3 separate regions of the Homo sapiens genome follow, and regions 1 and 3 are each linked to region 2. Evidence: fine-mapped expression QTL. A gene starts in region 2. Each other region holds a variant in brackets. All regions are shown on one strand. Distances are from middle to middle.

Evidence for each region. PIP is the estimated chance that this variant, and not a neighbour inherited with it, causes the effect. A credible set is the group of variants that fine-mapping cannot tell apart.
Region 1: its variant is the best candidate, but not a certain one, in a credible set for the expression of LACC1 in esophagus muscle (GTEx, PIP 0.88).
Region 3: its variant is the best candidate, but not a certain one, in a credible set for the expression of LACC1 in whole blood (INTERVAL, PIP 0.69).

Annotation. Positions count from the first base shown.
Region 1 is chr13:43,933,696-43,940,672 of GRCh38, forward strand. No RefSeq gene overlaps it. Among named protein-coding and RNA genes, the nearest start is that of LACC1, 57 kb to the left of the region's middle. The variant T/A (reference allele first, on the strand shown) is at 3,109.
Region 2 is chr13:43,877,155-43,884,131 of GRCh38, forward strand. It overlaps LACC1 (laccase domain containing 1), which reads left to right and starts at 2,750. Exons shown (of 7, transcript NM_153218.4): 1 at 2,750-2,965; 2 at 3,798-4,393; 3 at 5,031-5,209; 4 at 6,617-6,782. The coding sequence starts at 3,832. CCDC122 (coiled-coil domain containing 122) reads right to left here and starts at 2,586. Exons shown (of 7, transcript NM_144974.5): 1 at 2,477-2,586. RefSeq lists a silencer at 2,488-2,637.
Region 3 is chr13:43,738,456-43,745,432 of GRCh38, forward strand. The region is part of intron 1 of ENOX1 (ecto-NOX disulfide-thiol exchanger 1); the gene reads right to left. Among named protein-coding and RNA genes, the nearest start is that of ENOX1, 45 kb to the right of the region's middle. The variant T/C (reference allele first, on the strand shown) is at 2,942.

The DNA.
Region 1 (6,977 bases), 57 kb after region 2:
CTCTCTCCCACTCCCACATTGCTGCCAGTCTGTTTTTCATCACTTCTTTCTCTGCAATAACCTCTTAATTGATCTCTTCTTGATCCTAGCTTGCTCCTTTCAATTCTTTCTTCACTCTGCCAGCAGAATGGCCTTTCAGAAACAAACATTTTATCTTATCTCTCCTTTCCTTAAACACATTAATGGCATGTATCCCTACAACTTTTAGGAGAAAAATAAAACGTCTTAACACATAGAGTCCTTTGTGATTTGGTTTCTGCCCATCTAGATCTCTAGTTTCATCTTTTACCCCTCTCTCATACAGATCATTTCCCAGAATGAGGTCCTCCAGTTTTCTAAATATCATGCACTTTCGTACCTCTGGGCTATGCCACGTACAGTTTTCTTTGTGCTTTTATAGCATCCTTATCACACATTTATCTTTCCAACTAGATCACACACTTGTAGGGTTGTTTCTTTATATTTTTTGTGTTTTCTACAATAGTCACTTATTATTTTTACATTTTAACAAAATAAAATAATTGTGAAGGGCGCTATCCATTGAGGAAATTGGATATCCATTGAGGGAATTTAGTTGTAGAAGAGAAAAATGTGGTGGGATGAGACAGGCAACAGGATGGGTGGTGGGTCACAATACCTGTTTTCAAACATCCAAGGGCTTTCTTGGAAGGGTTTAGATGTCCATCTGGTGTAGATTTTAGGGAAACAGATTTCCTCTTAGTGTAAGAAAGTTGAACAGAGTTGTCTGAAGAGGGAATGAGCTGCTGAGTCAATAAGAGGTGAATGAATCACTTTTGGGTTTGTTTAGTGGAAGGGCTCTCACTGATACAGGGAGATTTCTGTTGAAAGAGGGAATTCAGCCTCTTCTGGAAGGTTGGCTCAAGTGGTCTGTGAGGTCTCTTCTATTCTTTGAATTTCACCATTACAAAAATAATTTAATAGCTTTCCACCCTTATACCCTGAAAACAGATTGATTTAACACTATTTAGAGGGTTCTGGTGTGGCTAGAGGAGCACAGGCCCCTCTCAGAATTCAATGTTAGTCATATCTTTGGTAAGAACTATCTATCTATCTATCTAACTATCTATCTATCTTTGATAGAGCCCTTTTCCTTCTTTGTGTTGTTCATCTTTTTTTCTCATAAGTATCCCATTCCTGATGGCCAACACATGACAGAATAGTAGTAAATGAATAACTTTCTATGTGTTAGGACACAACACCTTACTCTGTCCTATATTATGTTTCTCTTTGTGCTTGAATTATCTACCCAATTAGAATGTAAACTGTGCCTTAAATTTGTATGTTCCCCCCTGCATCTTTAAATATGGAATTATGGAATTCTTACTAAAGATTATATTTATCTGTAGTAATAATTCCATATATAAATTAAACTAAATTGAATTTAGGCAACAGGAAAACAGACCCAACAAATCCACCCTGAAATATTTTAGTAATCTATCAATCAAAGGGATTAAAAGAGATTTTAAAAACCCCATGAACATGGAACCTCAGTATAATCTGGCATACACAAAAGTAGTTTCTGAAATGTGGCAAATCGCCAGTCCTGGCAAATTGGGAAGGTAGTATGCCAATTACAGAGTGAGAAGTTGAATAGCACCATGGAGAATTAGGAGCAATAACACAGGATGAATGCCTTCGTCCTGATTTAGCCTCAGGTGGTCCTCACCAGAATCTGACAGGCAGATACCCTGGGATTCAGGGAATATTATAATCCCAGGGAATTCAGTCCATTGTTAATGTTGGTCAGGAATCATATACAGTATGAGTTAAGAAATACCAGAATTCATAAAGTAAGAATGTTTCTGCCTCTTTGTGGGCACCTGAAAATTGAATTGTCTGCCAACAGGAAGGGAAGCAGCAAGCAGATTCCTCAAGAGAAGGGGAGAGGCTTTGGTTCTCTTTACTTGCACACTTTTCTATAGGTAGTAAAACTATCAGCATCAGTCCCTTAGTCTTAACTGCAAAGTATCCCAGAGTATCAACTAGGGAGCTGTTGATCTGCAAATCCTCCATCTTCTCCCAGACTTTCTGCATTTGAAGGCCCCCCAAGGGTCAGCATCTTGTTTGAAGCTTAAAATAATTGCTTATCTTTATAGAGGCAGAGAGGGGTCTGAGGGAGAGAATAATGAAATAAAGACTAGTGGAAGCAGAAAAAGAAGGAAGTGTTTTGGATGGGGAAGGGAGAGAGAGCTTGAAGCTTAGGAACAAATTGACCAGTTTGGAGGGTAACCTTTTTCTCAAAAATCCAATTGAAAGTGTTCACAAGTCTGTACATCTAACCGTGTTGGCTGGTTTGCAGCAGCAGAGATGATGACAAGACTGTGTGACTCCTGGATGGAGGAAAGACATTCTTGTGGTGTGTCCCAAGAGACCTTCTGCCTTCCAGCTGACAAATCATCTGTGCTTCAAAAAAATTTCTGCTTCCAATCAAGACTGAAACTGAGAAATTTTCCTGACAAGAGTGGAAGTTGTAGCATGCACAGCCTGTTAGATTTGCTTCCTTTGTTTGGTGAGAAATAAAATCACACTCCACCAACAAATTGGAATGCCTAGGATATTCTCTGTCTCTTTCTCACTCCCTCACACATACACCTGCCTCCCCTTTGCCCCACGTGCATGCATACATGTGCACACATCTACCTTACTACTTTAGAGCCAGGTCTAATAGTGATAGACATAATCTCTGTCTGTCTATCATCTATCTATCTATCTATCTATCTATCTATCTATCTATCTATCAATCATCTATCTATCTATCTATCTATCTATCATCTATCTATCCATTCCTGTCACTGTCTCTGTCTCTGTCTCTTTCCAATAGTTCCTAGATTATGGCTAAATTTCCCCCCACATTTGGTAGGACAAAGACTTTTTACCATTAAGGATTTTTTTTTTTAATGTCCCTGCTACCAGTCATAAAGGAAATACCAAAAGGTCATTCCAAACAATTTTTTGGACAGAGGTTTACTGCTGAAATAGATGAAATAACTGATAATTTATCACAATAGCTAATTTGAAGGGGATAACTGGCACCTGGAAGTACAGAGCTGCTGTGTTGGTAAAAACAAAAGCAGCCGCCTTACTTTG[T/A]AATTATAGCTGATGTTAGAGGTTTTCTTTTTCTATTGTGGAGTTGTTGCCAAGGCAATAGCTTGGCACTCTTCTACACAAATGCTTTTCACATTAATCTACACAGGCTTCACAGATGTTAATTTTTGTAACACACCTATGCATTCCAGAAGAGCAAAATATATTTTTTAAAATCTGTTTTATATGGTAGGAAAAGAGCATTAGAAAACGTTTTTCTGGCCTCCTCTCTCGCTTCCAGGACACACTCACAGTGACCGTCATGGATTTTGAAATGGCCTCCAGACCTTAGCCCAGGACTGTGGGGAAAAGAGGGCAGGAAACCCAAAGAGAATCCACACGACAAACCAGATCAAGGACATGGCTAACGGTCAGAGTTGGAAGTTCTGCTGCTGAGACAAGGTGGAAGCCAGGAGGCAGAAACTCAAGAGGAACTAAAGCCAAATGTCACAGTTAGCAAAAATCAGGGCTAAAGCACAAGACAAGAACCAAAGGAGCGATCACTGTTGAGCAAAACAGTCTAGTGTCAGCATTCAGACACTGCCCTCGATGCAATTTCTGAACACTCTTGGGGCAGCAATGCTTCTTTAACCCCAACTTGAGGCAGCTCATGTAGAAAGCATCCACTATTGCTGGGCTTTGGGAGTGTGATTAATCTTGGAGGCAAGGTGAACTGTTAAAATTTTCACCCATCTTACACTGTGAAGAGACAGAATAAAGAAAGCCCTTCATACTTGTTGGTTCTGGAGTCATAAAGCTTACCAAAGTAGTAACATTGAGGCAGGGACTGGACCAGGGTGGGTGAGTGAGGTGCCTCAAGTACAAAACTTCAGGAGGCATTTACTCTTCAGGTCATATGAATGTGGGGCCACTGAGGCTCAGAGAGGGGAGGGGCCCCTTCACACCCCAGGCAGGGCAGCTCTGGACCTGACATCTGGTGCTCGGTGTCTCATTGATGTTAGGCCATGAGTTCATTTTGAATCAGAGTCTGTGGCGCTCATGGTGTTTCTTGAAAAAGAAAAACAACATTATTAATATTTAGCTACTCCCTGGCATTTTCTAATGTAGGATGGATACAAATAAACGCCCAAACTGGTGAAATAAAAAAATTTTGGTTAACACTATAGTAAAGACTTTTTTTTTCATATTCTTTTGCTGGCCAGGAAGTTCTAAATACCTTCCCAAGAGTATTTGCTGCAAAAAGAACAGAGAGGAAATAAATTATTGTGTGACTCCAGCAAACACTTGCCAAATGAATAGACAATGAATTAGAATTGGCAAAAGGGAGAATGGAACTCACATGAACTCAGTATCCTTTATTTTAGTTTCATTTAGTGGTTAAAGTCATACATTTGTTTTATTTTATGTACAATTTTTACATCTTTTTACAAAGGCTTTAAAAGGTATCTATATTAAGTGCCCACAAACTTTTCCTCTGAAACATCATTTAAATCACTCTGGCTGATTCTGCTCTCAACCAGATAAGGTATTAAGGAAAGACAAGAACAACAACAATAACAAAATGGTATGAAACTTTATCCAACCATGGCTTAAAAGGACTTATTGGTTAATTTGGATTTGGGTTGATGGTCAGGATGGCCTTGAAATTCATATTCTAAATTTAAATAGGAATTTCTTCAATTTTCCATTCAAGAAGTGATTCTCTTTCTTTTGTTCCACTAGGCTGTACAGATTGTATTCTCTGTTTCTGAGGCTGTCATCCGTTAGCAGGATTTACAGTTGCTGACAACTTGCTTTAATAATTCACAAGGAATAGAATCTATTTTGTGCTCTCTGTTTTCTCAGTCAGTTCAGTGATGCAGACAGATTAAAAACATGCTTTTTGTCAGTGAAATAAATTGAGAGGGCACAGAGACACCCTAGGAGGAGTAATACTGAACAAGATACCACTGTGAAATGTTTTCCCACCAGTACACAGCTAGATAAAACCAGAAACAGACCAGGCTCTGTCTTGAACCCTTGAATCTGGCAAGCCTGGTACTGAAGTTAGGCCTGCTCTCCAGGCATACCCCAAACTGTTGAGTTAATTTATATAGGCAACTGAATGTACTGGCTTTCAAGTTTTAGGGAAAGGAAATCATTTTAAGGACAAAATGAAATTCGAAATTCACACACAATTTATAAGCTGTGGCATTTTCTTTTTGTGAATTATGGTAGTAAAATGTGTAACTAGCACCTGTTATGTATTGTTTATATAGTTATCTGAAAAAGAAGATGCCTTTATTTCTGAGTAGCATCAGACAGCAGGGCAGGAAAGAGAAGGCTGCCTGGCCATAACTTCTACGCCTCCCTGGGTCATGCTATTGCTTCATGCTTCTTTAATATTAAATGTAACAAGTTCTGCATCAGGCTCAAATCCCATCTGGCCTCAGCCCAGAAGAGGCCCAGGGCCTGTCAGGCCTTACACTGCCCTGACTTTGTTGATAGATTCTGCTCATTGAAATTCAGCAGTGGAGGAAGAAGGTGCCTCCTCCTTGCAGCCTGTTCCTCTCCCTAAGCAAACAAGACTGTGGCTCAAAGGCAATGTAGACCATGGTGTCCACAGCCAATTTCAATACTTAGTTCCTTCCTGAAGCCAATCACCAGACCCACACCACAGGGTGGACACACCCTTCTGGGTAAAGAATGTATTTATTTAGGTTCATGCAGAAGCCAAAGAAGAAAGAACAGGGCAGATGAGAAAATCCTATAATGGACCTTGCAAGTGAACTGAGAGCTGTTTGGTGAATCTGGCTGACCACTTCAGCTCACTAGTGTGCACACATAACGCCCTTTCAGACTTTGGCATTCCTTGAATTTTCAATTTGATTTTGGCACTAGCTGTTTTCATAGGTAATTTTTCTTATTCTTCACATATTTCATGCCATTATGAAAAGTAAGTGTGTTTTGGCTAGACATCCTAGCAAAAAAAAAAAAAAGATGGTTATGAAGGTATTATCTTCAAAAGAATATTACAAATCACTATCTGGAAGTCAGCTGGCATCTGATATATCTTTATTTGTCTACATATGTAAATGTACATAGATATATAGTTATAGATATAAAATATTAACCAAATTTATGCGTGGTTTTCTTTAGGTAACTACAGATAAAAACTGCAGTTCCACTTGGCTTTTGTAACAAGTTGGCATCTAGGTTTTCATCTAATTGGTAAATGTATATAATTTAAAAACAGCTTAATTTTTTTTCTTAGTTTTCTTTAAAATGTGAATTGAAGTTGTGATTTGAAGTTGGAGTAAAATATCACTGGAGGCCCAGACATTTCCTGAAGTTTAATAGGGTAACCCTTTGGTGCTTGGAGCCATAACTTTACCATCTGAACTGCTCCAGAAATTCCAGTCACCAAACTCTGATATTTTTTTCACTCCTCCATCACATTTTAAACTTGTAATGGACCTTAAAGTGTTTCCAGTTCACCCTTGCAACTTTGCCCCAAGCTGGAGAAAGAATCTACCCCAAAATGTGCTCTTTATAACAACAGCATTTTTCCAGCCCTTGCCTCACAAAGGTGACATCTCTTGAAACTATTACGGCTTCAATATGCAAGGGATGTGGTCTCGGCTTCACCATAGCAGCTGCTGGGAGCAACCAGCTCTCCCAGGTTTATGCCACATAAACGCACACCCAAATACTCCAGTTCAATTTATTTTTCCTCATGCCGTTACTCCTAAATACGAATTCTTCCAGGGGTGGGCAAACTAATTTCTAAGGCTGTTTTCTTTTATTTTCTTCTTACTTTCTTTCTTTTCTTTCTTTTCTTTCTTTCTTTCTTTTTTTCTTTCTTTCTTTCTTTCTTTCTTTCTTTCTTTCTTTCTTTCTTTCTTTCTTCTTTCTCTTTCTTTCTTTGTCTT
Region 2 (6,977 bases):
AGGTGCCTTTAAGTTATTTTCCCCTTAAAAGAACAAAATCTTGGGAAATCTTAGCTGATGGTTTATGGGTACGGTTTATGCAAGAGATAGTATGCAGAATTCCAATCAGTAGACTACATGCAAAGAAAAGGTCTTGGATCTTCTCAATAGATGGGCAAATGAACACACAGTTGTTTTAGGTTAGAATACAGTTTAAGGTATTTGTTATATTTTTTCATGATTCTGTGGTTTAACTGACCTTTTTTCTTATAAAAAAAGCCTTTTTTAGATATAATTTACATACCACAAAGTACATCCTTATAAAGTGTACAATTCAATATTTAACCATTTTTTCCACTTATTTCTTGGCTAGGGGCCCAGACTACATCTATGAGAGGGCTTCTTCATATGAACAAAATGTAAAGAAGCTATTAATTTTGCTTGATGAGGGATGGGGATTCAGGGAAGATTATGTTTGAGCTTGAAGAGCCTTGAACAAAAAGTAGCAGTTAGGCATATAAAAAGGAGGGTATTTTGCTAAGTAGAGGAACTGCAAATGTAAAGAATGAAATCATGTGGCCTCCAAAGAACAGCTTTTATTTGAGTGGCTTGGGAATAGGGTGTTTTTATTTTTTCAAACTTAATTATGCATCTAACTCATACATAGAGGTTAAAACAAAACAAAAAAGCAAAGCAAAACATGCTCAGGCCTAACTCCTAGAGATTCTGATTCAATGTATATTTGGGATAGAGTCTCTACATTAATTATTTTTTTTTTCAGTTGCACTTGCAGTTCTGATTTGCAGCCAAGACTGAGAACCACTGGAGTAGGATAGAGTGAAAATGGGATGAGGAAGTGTTAGGACATGACACTAGGACCAGATGGTGAAAGGAAATGGTATGCAAATACAATATAACAAACTCTCTTCCCTGACAACTTCATTCTTTTGAAATATTTTCTTTTTCATTTTTTTTTTACTGCCACTACTTTTGCATGAAAGAATACGAATCCCACCATTGTAAAAACAGAGATAAATGTTTAAAACCTTTGTAACTAAAAGACCTCTGTTTTGCTTGAGGTATTAAGCTGGTGCAAAAGTAATTGTGGTCTTTGTCAATGGCAAAAACCGCAATTACCTTTGCACCAATCTAATGATATTTAACATAAACAAACTCAGGGCAGAGTGCACCTTCTGATTGGGTGTACCATCTACCGCTCGGGGCTCTTTAACAAATGACCAAAGAAAACATGAATTTTGACATAACTGGTGCTAGGGTTATTGAAGGGTGGGTTTCCATTCTGGGTTAGTGCTCCCAGTCTCTAGTCAAGCACAAGAACATGCCTACCCCAGAGGGCTCTTCCAAATTCCCAGCTATCTGAGATTATGAGACAAAGGTTCTTTAGCGCCTACCAAATGAGCAACAATGAAGATAAAAGGGACCTCTCCTTCCATCATAACCAGTTCCCCAGGAAGCACCATTTCTCTTACTCTTGGAAGGTCGGATATTTTTTCCCTTTACCATACACTGGCCTTCCATGTCCTAACTGCTATTTTCAAATAAATGAACGTTATATTCTTGGAGGACAGATCAGGGATGCTAAACTGCACCTTTATCATGATTTTAGGGATGAGCGCCTTTTACTTAAGTCCTGCTAGTGGCACATATTTTAAAAGGCCATAGAGGACATCCGTGTTGTCAACACAAGTGAAGGCGCTCGGAAGAGTGTTGGTCAGCAAGAATCAGCACAAAGACATTGGAGGAGAGACAACAGCTTGTTTCTGGAAACAAATGAACAACAAAAAAACACTAAAACATCTCGAGGGGGCCCCTGACTTGAGCCCTGCATGGGAAAAGCTGCCAAGAGCTAGCATGACAAGGGACTGGCCCTGGGCTGCGGTGAGGAAACCCAGCGTCCTGACCACACTGCTGGGTCAGCGAGGCGTCCCTCAGAGACCGGAAACGCGGACTTCAGCTCGCTTGGGAAACGGCTTCCATTAGCAGAAGGGAGACTGCGGTTTAGTCCCGAGGTCGCTCCAGCAGCCCGGCCTCACGCGACCCACCATTCCCGCCGCCCCCTCACGGTGCCCGCCGTTCCCGCCGCCCGGCTTTCTAACCGGGCCCCTAGTTCCCCGCCCCGTGCCCTCTGGAGACCTGCAGCTCCTGCCGCCCTGCGCCCGCTCCCAGGGCCCGTCGTTCCGCCGCCCTATCCCTCCTCAAGGGGCCCCTAGCTGCCTCCTCGCGACCCTTTCCGGACTCGGCCTGCCCACTCCTGCCCGCTAACCCGCCTGGCTCCCGGGCGAGAGCCCTCGCGCGGCTCTGGTTCCTGTTCCTCTAACGCCGCCGGGGCTGCGGGATGCCGACTCCGCGGACCGCCCAGACCCGGAACTGCTGAGGCAGCAGCGGGCTCGCGGCGCTTGGCTCATCCCGGGATTCCCCAGCTCTCGCGCTGGGCCCGCCGCGTTCGCACCAAGCACGCCAGGCGGCCCTGGCCTACCTCCCTCCCGCCTCCCGGCAGCTGGCACGAGGGAACCTGGCCGTCAGGTTTCCCCTGGGATCCTGGGACGGTATCAGGCGGGGAATCTGTGCGGCCGCGGCGAGGTAGGTGAGGTGAGGCGGGGCGAGGTGGGCGAGGGGGGCGAGGTGAGGCGGGGCGAGGCGGGGCGAGGCGAGGCGGGGCGAGGTGGGCGAGGTGGGCGAGGTGAGGCGGGGCGGGTGTCGTCGCGCTGGGCCGAGCTTACGACTCCAGCTGACCCGCTCGCGGCTGCCCAATTTCGTTGAGGCTCAGGACGAGGGACGGGGCGGCAAATTGTCACAGAGGTCGCCGTAGACCGGTGTGCAACCGAAGGTGAAGAGCGGGAAGGCGAGGACCGAATCGCCTCTGGTGTGCGTTGTCCGACAGGAAGTCCCGAATGGGCTGTGAGCCGCCGGTGGAGGTGCCCGGGCAGGTGCAGAGCCACAGCCTGCGCCCCGTGAGCCGAGGCGGGTAGGAGGAACAGGGACCTGGCGGCGACACACGTTGGGCGGAAATTCACAATGAACAGGGAAGGGGGGACGGTCACCCACTCAAAACTGGCTAAATGAACCTCAGAGGGAGCCCCGAGAGATGGGGAGCAAAGGTTAGGGGAAGCGGCAGGAGAAAACCTTCTTGGGGCAAAGGGCGTCACCAAAGGGGGTCACCGGAGCCCCGCAGGTTGGGGTGGGAGGGCTGGGCTGGAGGTGAGCAAAGCTGCACGGGGAGAATGAATTAAGAAAGTTGAGAGGAAGCCTGTCTCATCCAAATCACTATAGCTTTTGTGGTCATTGCTAAGTGTGGAGTACTGCGCAAATCCTGAAGGGAACTCTATTAGCCATCTCAGCTTTTATCATCTTAAAACGCGAATTTCGCGTGCAGCTCCATTTAGCTTCGTAAACTTAAGCCCCCGCATATGAAAGGATGAGACCTAATATGACAATCATGTCAGGACTAATGATATATCACACAGGTTGACACTCTGCAATTTAAAAACAGGACTTTGTCTAAACTCCACAAGTAATTCCTTACTCAAAAGTTCTGTGTAAACAAAACAGAGGAACTGTCGTGCTGCTGGAAAGATGTACCAGCATTTTCACAAAACGAATTAAAAGATGGCTTTGCTTTCACTGTCATGGTTCTGTTGTGACAGAGTAGACTGGCTTTTCTGGGAGGGGCCTAGATTTACTATTTTAGTTACATTTTAAAATCAGTGTAATTACTTCGTTTTTAATCTACCACAAATTTCTGTTGTAACTATAAGATTTATATAATCTTATATTCTTACACTAATTTTTATTTGCAGGTGATTTATTTGGCATAAAAGTATTCTTTCAAGGATGGCAGAAGCTGTTTTGATTGATCTTTTTGGTTTGAAATTGAACTCTCAAAAAAACTGCCATCAGACATTACTGAAGACTTTGAATGCTGTCCAATACCACCATGCTGCCAAGGCCAAGTTTCTCTGTATAATGTGTTGCAGTAACATCAGCTATGAAAGGGATGGAGAACAAGATAATTGTGAAATAGAAACAAGCAATGGATTATCAGCTCTCTTGGAAGAATTTGAGATTGTTAGCTGTCCCAGCATGGCTGCCACTTTGTATACCATTAAACAGAAAATTGATGAAAAAAATCTGAGCAGCATTAAGGTAATTGTACCCAGGCACAGGAAGACATTAATGAAAGCTTTTATTGATCAACTCTTCACTGATGTTTACAATTTTGAATTTGAAGATTTGCAAGTGACTTTTAGGGGAGGGCTTTTTAAACAGTCCATTGAAATAAACGTAATCACAGCTCAAGAACTAAGAGGAATTCAGAATGAAATAGAAACATTTTTGAGAAGTCTGCCAGCACTGAGAGGAAAATTAACTATTATCACTTCTTCTTTGATCCCAGGTATATTAACCACTAACTGTTGTTTTTACTTTGTACATGGAAAACTAGTCTTTCTTCAGAGGTAGTTCACCTCTTTTTTTCCTCCTTTCTTTTGTTGACTGTTGTGGGCTGATTACTCATTAGCATCAGTGGCAACACAGAGGTGTCATGTTTGGCCCTGTAGTATCAGGGGTGTCAAGGGATAAAGCCTTCAAAGCCACCCCAAATAAATAAATTTGCTTTACAAAAATTTGATGATGAGACAAATAATCTAGCCCTCCTTTGCAATGAGATTTATGACACTGAAAATCTTCTATTTAGAAATTCTGAAATTTCAAATCATTGGCACCTTCATAGAAGAGTAAAATTTAAAACAATCAATCTTACTTCTTGGTTAAACAGTATTTTCTGTGAGCTATATGCTATTAGATATAACAAAGCCAGATGAGACACAATATACCTTTTGAAGAGCAACAATCTCATAGGGAGTGTAAAACAAACACAAAGCAGAATGCCATAAGAACATATGGAGGTACAAAATGCCATAGAAATTAGAAGCCAAATAACAAGGGCAGGTAGCAGTGATCAGGGAAGGTCTAATTGAGAGACTGGTATTTTGAATAGCATCTTTTAAATCTTCACTGCTTATCTTCAACAGATATTTTCATACATGGATTTACTACAAGAACAGGTGGGATATCTTATATACCAACTCTTAGCTCATTCAATCTCTTCAGTAGTTCCAAACGGAGAGATCCCAAGGTAGTGGTTCAAGAAAATCTGCGTAGGTTGGCGAATGCTGCAGGATTTAATGTGGAGAAATTTTACCGAATAAAGGTAAAATTTTGCTTTATATTTTGAAAGATCTAAAGTATATTTTTTACTTTGCTAGTAACTACATGGACTTTAAGCTATTTAACTTTTGTATCTGCTTTTTTATCTAAAGTTTTAGAATAATGCTGTGGTTGTCTTTCTTAGATTTATACACCATAGCCTAAAGATAAGTTCTATTTTATACACACACACACACACGTGCAGATATATATATATATATATATATGCACACACACATATAGTAAGTCATCCTTTAATGTTGATAGGTTCTTAGAAATTGTGACTTTAAGTGAAACGACATAATAAAACCAATTTTACCATAGGCTAATTGATATAAATAAGAATAAAGTTTCTAAGGCATATTTCTTGTCACAAAAACATCACCAAACTTCTAAATAAAGACCAACACATTCCTAGTATTAAACATTGAAATAAATGTGAGCTAGACATATATTTACAAAACAGTAAGAAAGACAAATAAGATAACTACCAAATTATTTCGGTTCAGGGCTTTAGGTAGCTGGAGTCTATTCTGGCAGATCAGGATGCAAGGCCACAACCCACCCTCGACAGGACACCATTCCATTGCAGGGTGCCCTTACACACACACACACGTACTCATGCTGGGACCATGTAGACACCCCAATTCATCTAACATGCACTTCTTTGGGATGTGGGAGGAAGCTGGAGTACCCAGAGAAAACCCATGTGGACGTGAGGAGAAGGTGCAAACCTCACACAGTCAGTGACCGGGTGGGTAATCAATTTTTTTCATTAACATTATAATGAAATGATGTGGAATAAAATGACATTATTCAAGAGCCTACTGTATATTTCATCTGGAGTCCTCAATTCTAAAAGTACAGTTAATTCTCAGAGAGTATACTACCACTGCTCTTTTTGATTTAGAAGAAAGGGAACTGAATGGTGGTAGAGAAAGGCCATTATTTTATAAATCTACTCCAGGAGGAACTAGGGTCATAGTTGATGAGATAATGTCTTGTTCCTTACAGAATTCTAGCTTTACTTGAGTCTTGGAAAAGTAAAAGTATCATTGATTTGTTAATTAACTTTCCTTTACAAGAAAAATTTTCATTTTGTAGAAAGTGCTATAAGAAATGATATACCTATCTTTATGGAAAGATGTTCATTATTCACTATATTGAATTTTATAATGTTAAACTCTGCTTTTCTTTGCATAAACTATCAGAGATTATAATCTAAAATCTTAAATAGTTAAATTATAAGTAAATTTTGTGTTTTCCCATATATAAAAGTGATATATTTAATGAATGCTAGTAATCTTAAACTGGTTATATAATTTTATACTACAATGAGTACCTTCGAGAAAGCTTATGGTATAAGAAATACTATTTCCAAAACATTTTTGTTGCACATTTTTGGTATTAGACTCATCATTCCAATGACATCTGGATTATGGGAAGAAAGGAGCCTGACTCTTATGATGGAATAACCACAAATCAGAGAGGAGTCACAATAGCAGCTCTTGGTGCAGACTGTATACCGATAGTTTTTGCAGATCCAGTCAAAAAAGCATGTGGGGTTGCTCACGCTGGTAAGTATACTTAATTAAACATTTAGAATTTTACTCATTTTGTTGTGCAGGAAAAATTGTAATTTCTTTCTGATGGACATGGCAAACAGTTAATTACATTACACTGTGGTAAGTGTAATGATGGGAGAGGCGGCATAGTTTTATTATAGGGACAGCTAAGAGGAGTATCTGCATCAAATTATATGAATTATAGTA
Region 3 (6,977 bases), 140 kb before region 2:
AAAATTAGTCAATATTAACAGTCTCTATTTAGATAATCCACCACTCACCCACATTTAAATAGAAACAATGTTTTCATTTACTACTTTTCAAAGAGAGGTGTCTTCCAAACAATAATTCTTTAGTTGCATATCATTAGAAAGGTTTTGAAAAAATATATAAAGCAAGTAAATGTCCCACAAGCATACCAAGATGGCAACTGATTCTTCCTGGGTAATGTTTGCTCAGTTATTTACAGTGATATTTGATTATAGTAATATATATAGATTTTTTTGTTCCCAAACTCTGAAACCATTTTGCCTATTCATGCTAGTTTTGCCAATCAGTAACTCAATTATTAAGGAGGTCCAGCACTCATCCCAATTAAAACTGCAAAGCAAGAGGTATTGCCTTTTACCTGGCCCATTTCTGCTTTCATAGTCCTTCCAGTCCATTTCCTCTCTGAACTTTTTTTCTCAATTAGCACCCAGGTCCCTTACCCTCCATACTCATGGCTTAGCGGGGTTGCCCTTTATGGACAGTGCCCATCCTTCCAAAAATGGACAAATCTGCAAGGCCACACTAAAATAAAAAAACTATCCTATCTCCCATTTCCTCTATCTCCAACTGTTTCCTAGGTTCCAACTAGCTAATCAGATTAATTGACACCATTTGTTCACTAACAATCTTACACTAAGTCATTTCTTCAACAAATATCTACTATGTACCGGCATTTTTCTAAGTACTGGGGACATACTGGTGAACAATACCAGGCCAAAATTCTTTCCTTCATCGAAGGTTAACACAATGTTATCAATTAATGATAAATATATTGGTGGGTGTGGTGGCTCACACCTGTAATCCCAGCAATTTGGGAGGCCAAGTCGGGCAGATTGCTTGAGTCCAGGAGTTCAAGACCAGCCTTGGCAATATGGCAAAACCCCATCTCTACTAAAAACGCAAAGAACTAGCCGGGCATGGTGGCATGCGCCTGTAGTCCCAGCTACTTGGGAGGCTGAGGTGGGAAAATCGCCTGAGCTCAGGAGGTGGAGGCTGCAGTGAGCTGAGATAGCACCACTGCACTCCAGCCTGGGCAACCAGAGTGAGAGCCTGTCTCAAATAATAATAATTATTATTATTATATAATAAATGTATTTATTTAAATATATATAAACGTGTGTGGGAGTTAGATGATTCTAAGACCAAGAGAGAAAAATAACATAAGAAAAGAGCTGTTGTGATGAGGTTGTATTTTATTAATAAATAAGATGGTTAAATAAAGTGATGGATAAAGTCTAAAGAAGGTGAGGGAGGAAGCTGTGTGATATACGGTTAACCCTTAACAGCATGGGTCTGAACTGCACGGGTCCACTTAAACTCAAATTTTCTTCTGCCTCTGCCACCCGAAACAGCAAGACCCACCCCTTCTCTTCCTCAACCTCTCCTCAGCCTACTCAACTTGAACACAACAAGGATGAAGACCTTATAATGATGCACTTCCACTTAATGAATAGTAAAAATATATTTTCTCTTCCTTATGATTTTCTTAGTAACGTTTTCTTTTCTCAAGTTTACTTTGTTGTAAATTTTGGGGGAGTCAAAAGTTATGTGCAGCTTTTCAACTGTGCAAGTGGTCGGTGCCCCTAACTCCCACATTGTTGGAAGGTCAACTGAATATGGGGAATGTGTTCCCAGCAGAGGGAACAACAGATTCATAAGTCGTGAGTTAGAAGAGCGACATTTCTGAGGCACAGAAATGAGGCCATGTGCCTGCAGTGGGGTAAATGAGACAAAAGGTAGTAGGTGTTCAAGGTAGGGAAACACCAGGAACCACTGGAAGGACTTTGCATTTACTCTGAAAGAGAAGGGAAACCATTGGAGGGTTTTTAGCAAAGAAGTGACCTCAACCAATTTACCTTTTTTTTTTAACACCTTTACTGAGATATAATTGGCATATGATATCCATTTTAGATGTGCAGTTGAAGGAGTTTTAGTATATTCACAGAGTTGTACAATCATGATCACAGACAACTTTAAAACATTTTTTATTTTTTTTTAACTTTTTAAGTTCAGGGGTACAAGTGCAGGTTTGTCACATAGGTAAACATGTCTCGTGGGGTTTTTTGTACAGATTATGTCATTACCCAGGTATTAAGCCTAGTACCAATTACTTATTTTTTCCTGATCCTCTCCCTCCTCTACCCTCCATCCTTGTTACTCCAAAAAGAAACCCCATATCCATCAGCAGTCACTTCAACCTCCACCCCAAACTCTTGGTCCCAGGCATTTCTTATAAATGGAGTCATACAATATGTGGTCTTTTATGTCTGGATTCTTACACTTCACATGTTTTTAAGGTTCATCCTTGTTGTAGCACGTGCCAGTACTTCATTTCTTTTTATCGATGAATAATATTCCATTGTCTAGCTATATCACATTTTGTTTATTCAACAGTTGAAGGACATTGGCGTTGTTCCCTCTTTTTAGCTATTATGAATAGTGCTGCTATAAACATTTGTGTACTAGTTTTGTGCAGACACATTTTCAGTTCTCTCGGGTAAATATCTAGGAGAAGAATTGCTAGGTCATATGGTAACTCTGTGTTGAACCTTTTGAAAAAGTGCCAAACTGTTCTCCAAAATGGCTGAAACTTTTTTTTTTTTTTTTTTTGAGACAGAGTCTTGCTTTGTGATCCAGGCTGGAGTGCAATGGCGTGATCTCAGCTCACTGCAACCTCCGCCTCCCAGGTTCAAGAGATTCTTCTGCCTCAGCCTCCCAAGTAGCTGGGATCACAGGCACATGCCACCACGCCTGGCTAAATTTTGTATTTTCAGTAGAGACGGGGTTTCACCATGTTGGCCAGGCTGGTCTAGAACTCCTGACCTTGTGATCTGCCCACCTCGGCCTCCCAAAGTGCTGGGATTACAGGTGTGAGTCACTGCGCCCGCCTGAACCTTTTTATAT[T/C]CTACCAGCAGTGTATGAGGGCTTCAAATTCTCCATAGCCTCAACAACACCTGTTATTATTGGTCTTTTTGAATATAGCCATCTAAGCTGGTGTGGTATCTCATAGTGGTTTTGATTTACATTTCAGAGACTGAGTACCTTTTCATGTGCTTTTTGATCTCTTCAGATCTTTGCCCATTTTCGAATTGTGTTATGTACCTTTTTTATTAAGTTGCATGAGTTCTTTACATATCCAATATACAAGTCCCTTATCAGATACATGATTTGCAACTTTTTCTCCCATTTCGTAGATTGCTTTTTCACTTTTTTATGGTGTGCTTTAAAACACAGAATTATAAAATGTTGACGAAGTCCAATTTATCTGTTTTTTGTTGCTGTTGCTCGTGCTTTTAGTGTCATATTTAAGAAACTGTTGCCTAATCCAAGATCATGAAGATTTACATCTGTTTTCTTCTAATAGTTTTATAGCTTTAGGTCTTATTTTAGGCCTTTAAAATATTTTTGAATTAATTTTTGCATATGGTATAAGAGAAAGAGTCTAAGTTCATTCTTTTGCATGTAGAGATTCAGTTGTCCTGGCACCATTTGTTGAAAAGATTATTCTTTCTCACATTGAATTACCTTGCACTCTTATAAAACTAAATTACATTTTAACAGAATTTCTATAGTCATATTAAGAATAGACAAAATGGGCAAGGGTAGAAGCAGAGAAGCCAGTTAGAAAGCTATTATCATAAATCATGTATATTAGGGCTTGCCAGAGAAAAGGAACCAATAGATATATAGAGACATATAGAAAGAAATTATGAAGTATTGGCACACATATTATTGAGGCTGAGAAGTCCCATGATCGACATGCTGGTCAGGAAAACCAGTGACATAGTAACAATCCAAATCTGAAGGGCTGAGGAGCCAGTAGTGTTAGTCCTGGTCCAAGTCCAAAGGCCTAGGAACTAGAAGCATCAATGTCCAGTCAAAGACAGGAGAAAATGGATACTCAAGCAAAGAGAGACAGAGAGAGACAGAGACAGAGAGAGACAGTGTGTGTGTGTGAGTGTGAGAGTGTGTTAGTTCACCCTTCCTCCATCTTATTTGTCTATTTGGGCCCTTGACAGATTAGATGATGCCCACTCACATTGGTGAGAGCCATCTTCTTTACTCAGTCTACCAATTCAAATGTTAATCTCTTTCAGAAACACTCTCACAAACATACCCAGAAACAATGTTTTACCAGTTATCTGGGCATTCTTTGGCCTTGTCAAGTTGACACATAAAATTAACCACACACCAAATAAGAGATAATGGTGGCTCAACCAAGAGAGTAGCACTGGAAGTGGAGAGAAGTGGTTGAATTCTGGATGTTTTGGAAGTTGAGCTGATAGGATCTGCTAAGAGACTGGATGTAGGTGTGAGATAAAGAAAGGACTCAGTTGACTCTAATATTTTTGATTTTTCAGTTAGACAAACTGCAATTTTGGGGAATAGGGACATGATCGCTCAAACTACCGTGTGTAAAATAGACTGGGAACAGGGAATTGGGGGATAGGATGAAAGCCTTCTATCCTAGAAACAATTTCTGTTTCATTGAAAATCTACTGAGTCCATAGGGCACATAGATGGCACTAGTTAATGTTCCTTTACAGTGAAAGAGGCTGTTTATTCACTGAAAAGAGAATGCCTTGAGGGCTTTATTAGGGTCTTGAACTGAACTCTTTCTGTCTGTTTGTATAAGAGGTTCTCAGAACAAGTTCAGGGTTGCCCAGAAGTTGTTTTTAGAGAAGCCCTGAAGCCTCATACTTTCACAGAAGGAGACCTTGATAATCTCTCATCAGGAATTTATTTGAAATGTCATTAGAACTTCTTAGAGACATCATGACTAACCTAAAAAAAATAATTAACTGTGAGAACTACAAATTTTACCACAAGACAGTGGAGAAAACATTACAGGATAGATAGAAATTCAGGAACCCCTCAAATCACACTCCTCCAGAACATTTTCACTGGAAGACAAAGGAGCCTCATTTCCTATTAACTCAGAAACTCTTTCAAGCATCTGTTGTGGTAGATTTTCTAATAGGTCCAGCCCAGGGGGTTCTCAGGTATAAATCCTCAAGTTCTAGTAAAGCCTCTTGAGAAGATGGTCAAGGCACAACTTGAATAGCTCATACCACTGAACTGGAAAAATGCTCCTAAAGCTCTAGTGTCCTTTGAAGAGACTTGATCTTCCTCCCCTGGCCTTAAGAGAGGCAGGTAAAGCAGGATAAGTACTGCAACACACAGGGAAGAAATGAAATCACGAAGATCTCTCTTTCTGCGTAAAAATGGATGAATTTCTTCGGATTTAGCAGCTGTCTTAGTCTGTTTTGTAATGCTATAACAGAATACTTAAGATTGTGTAATTTATGAACTACAGAGATTTATTTCTTACAGTTCTGGAGGCTAGGAAGTCTAAGATTGAGGGGCCAACATCTGGTCAGGGACTTCTTGCTACATCAAAACATGGTAGAGAGAGAGCCAGAGAGAGGGGAGCAAACTTGCTTTTATAACAAACCCAGTCTCACAATAGCAAACTCACTCTCATGACAATGACATTAATCCATCCATGAGGGCAAAGCCCTCATGATCTAATCACCTCTTAAAGATCCCATCTCTCAAAACTGTTGCGTTGGTGATGGGGCTTCCAACACATGATCTTTGGGAGGACACATTTAAAACCACAGCAGCAGCTTTTCACTCTCTCTATCCTAGAAACAACTTCCATTTCAGTGAAAATCTACTGCCTCCACAGAGAACAGGAATGGCATTAGTTAATGTTCCTTTACAGTGAAAGTATGAGGCTTTCTCATACTTTTCAGGGCTTCTCTGAAAACAAGTTCTGGGCAACCCACTTTAGGTTCTGAGAACCTGTTACAAAAACAGACAGAAAGAGTTCAGTTCAAGACCCTAATAAACCCCTCAGGTCATTCTTTTTTCAGTGTACCAACAGCTAATGAGGAAGCTGTGCCTCTTAACGAGGAAAGGAGGCTAGGATACCATGCCAAGGATCTCCAAGACACACAAAGGAAGATGTAAATCTTTCCTCAGGCCTGGTGACAAGACAAAGACCAAATGGAATCCTAAAATGGGCTCTTTGGCAGTCACGTCTAGAGGAATGGAAGACGTGATGAACTACTCTAGGAACTGGTATTAAAACAAGCAACCCAAATGTAAATAAAAGACTACTTGCTTCAATTAAGTCTTAGCTACAGGAGTGTGAACTTTAATATTTCCTCAGTGTACATCTCCGCTAGTGCTTTCACCATTATTAAAGTATGTTTATACAGGGTTTGGCTTTCCAGCTATTATGGAAAAATTACATCTTGCCAACAGTACTATAGGGGTCTAAACACAGCAAATCCTCCACTGACCTTGAACCCAAGCTAAAGCAAATAGTCACTCTCCTTGGTGCTGAACTGCCTAAATAATGCACTGCATAAATGGCTGTGAATCTAAATTACATCTACAATGCATCTTAGCATTACGGATTACTAACAATTTTTCCAGAAGGCAGTGTTTGTAGAGGCATTGCAATGTGAAGGAAATTCTTAGGGAGAAAACTGGAAAACATTCACTTGCAAATGATGATCATTTATTTATTGAACACTAGGAGTATGCTGGGCCTTGAGCTCCACAGAGGAGGTAGCAGGGTGATGACAGTCTCTGGCCAGAAGGCTTCACAAGAGTGGAGGAAGAAGATGATGGTTAACAGACAATATGCTAGAGGAAAAGTAACTGCAATAGAAAGTTTGAAGTGGTGAAGCATCATGAGACGGAACAGAAAACAAAAGAGGGAGAAGACAACAAAAATGCCAACTGAAATATCTACTTAATATAAAATTACACTTCCATTTGAACCAAAATAAAATTTATCCACATGTAAAAGTGCTCAGAAAATAACATTAAATGAAAAAAGCAAAATATAAAATGATTAAAACATAAAATCATACATATATACAAAGGCCAAAAACTGGAAGGGAATACAGAGAAATCAAAACCA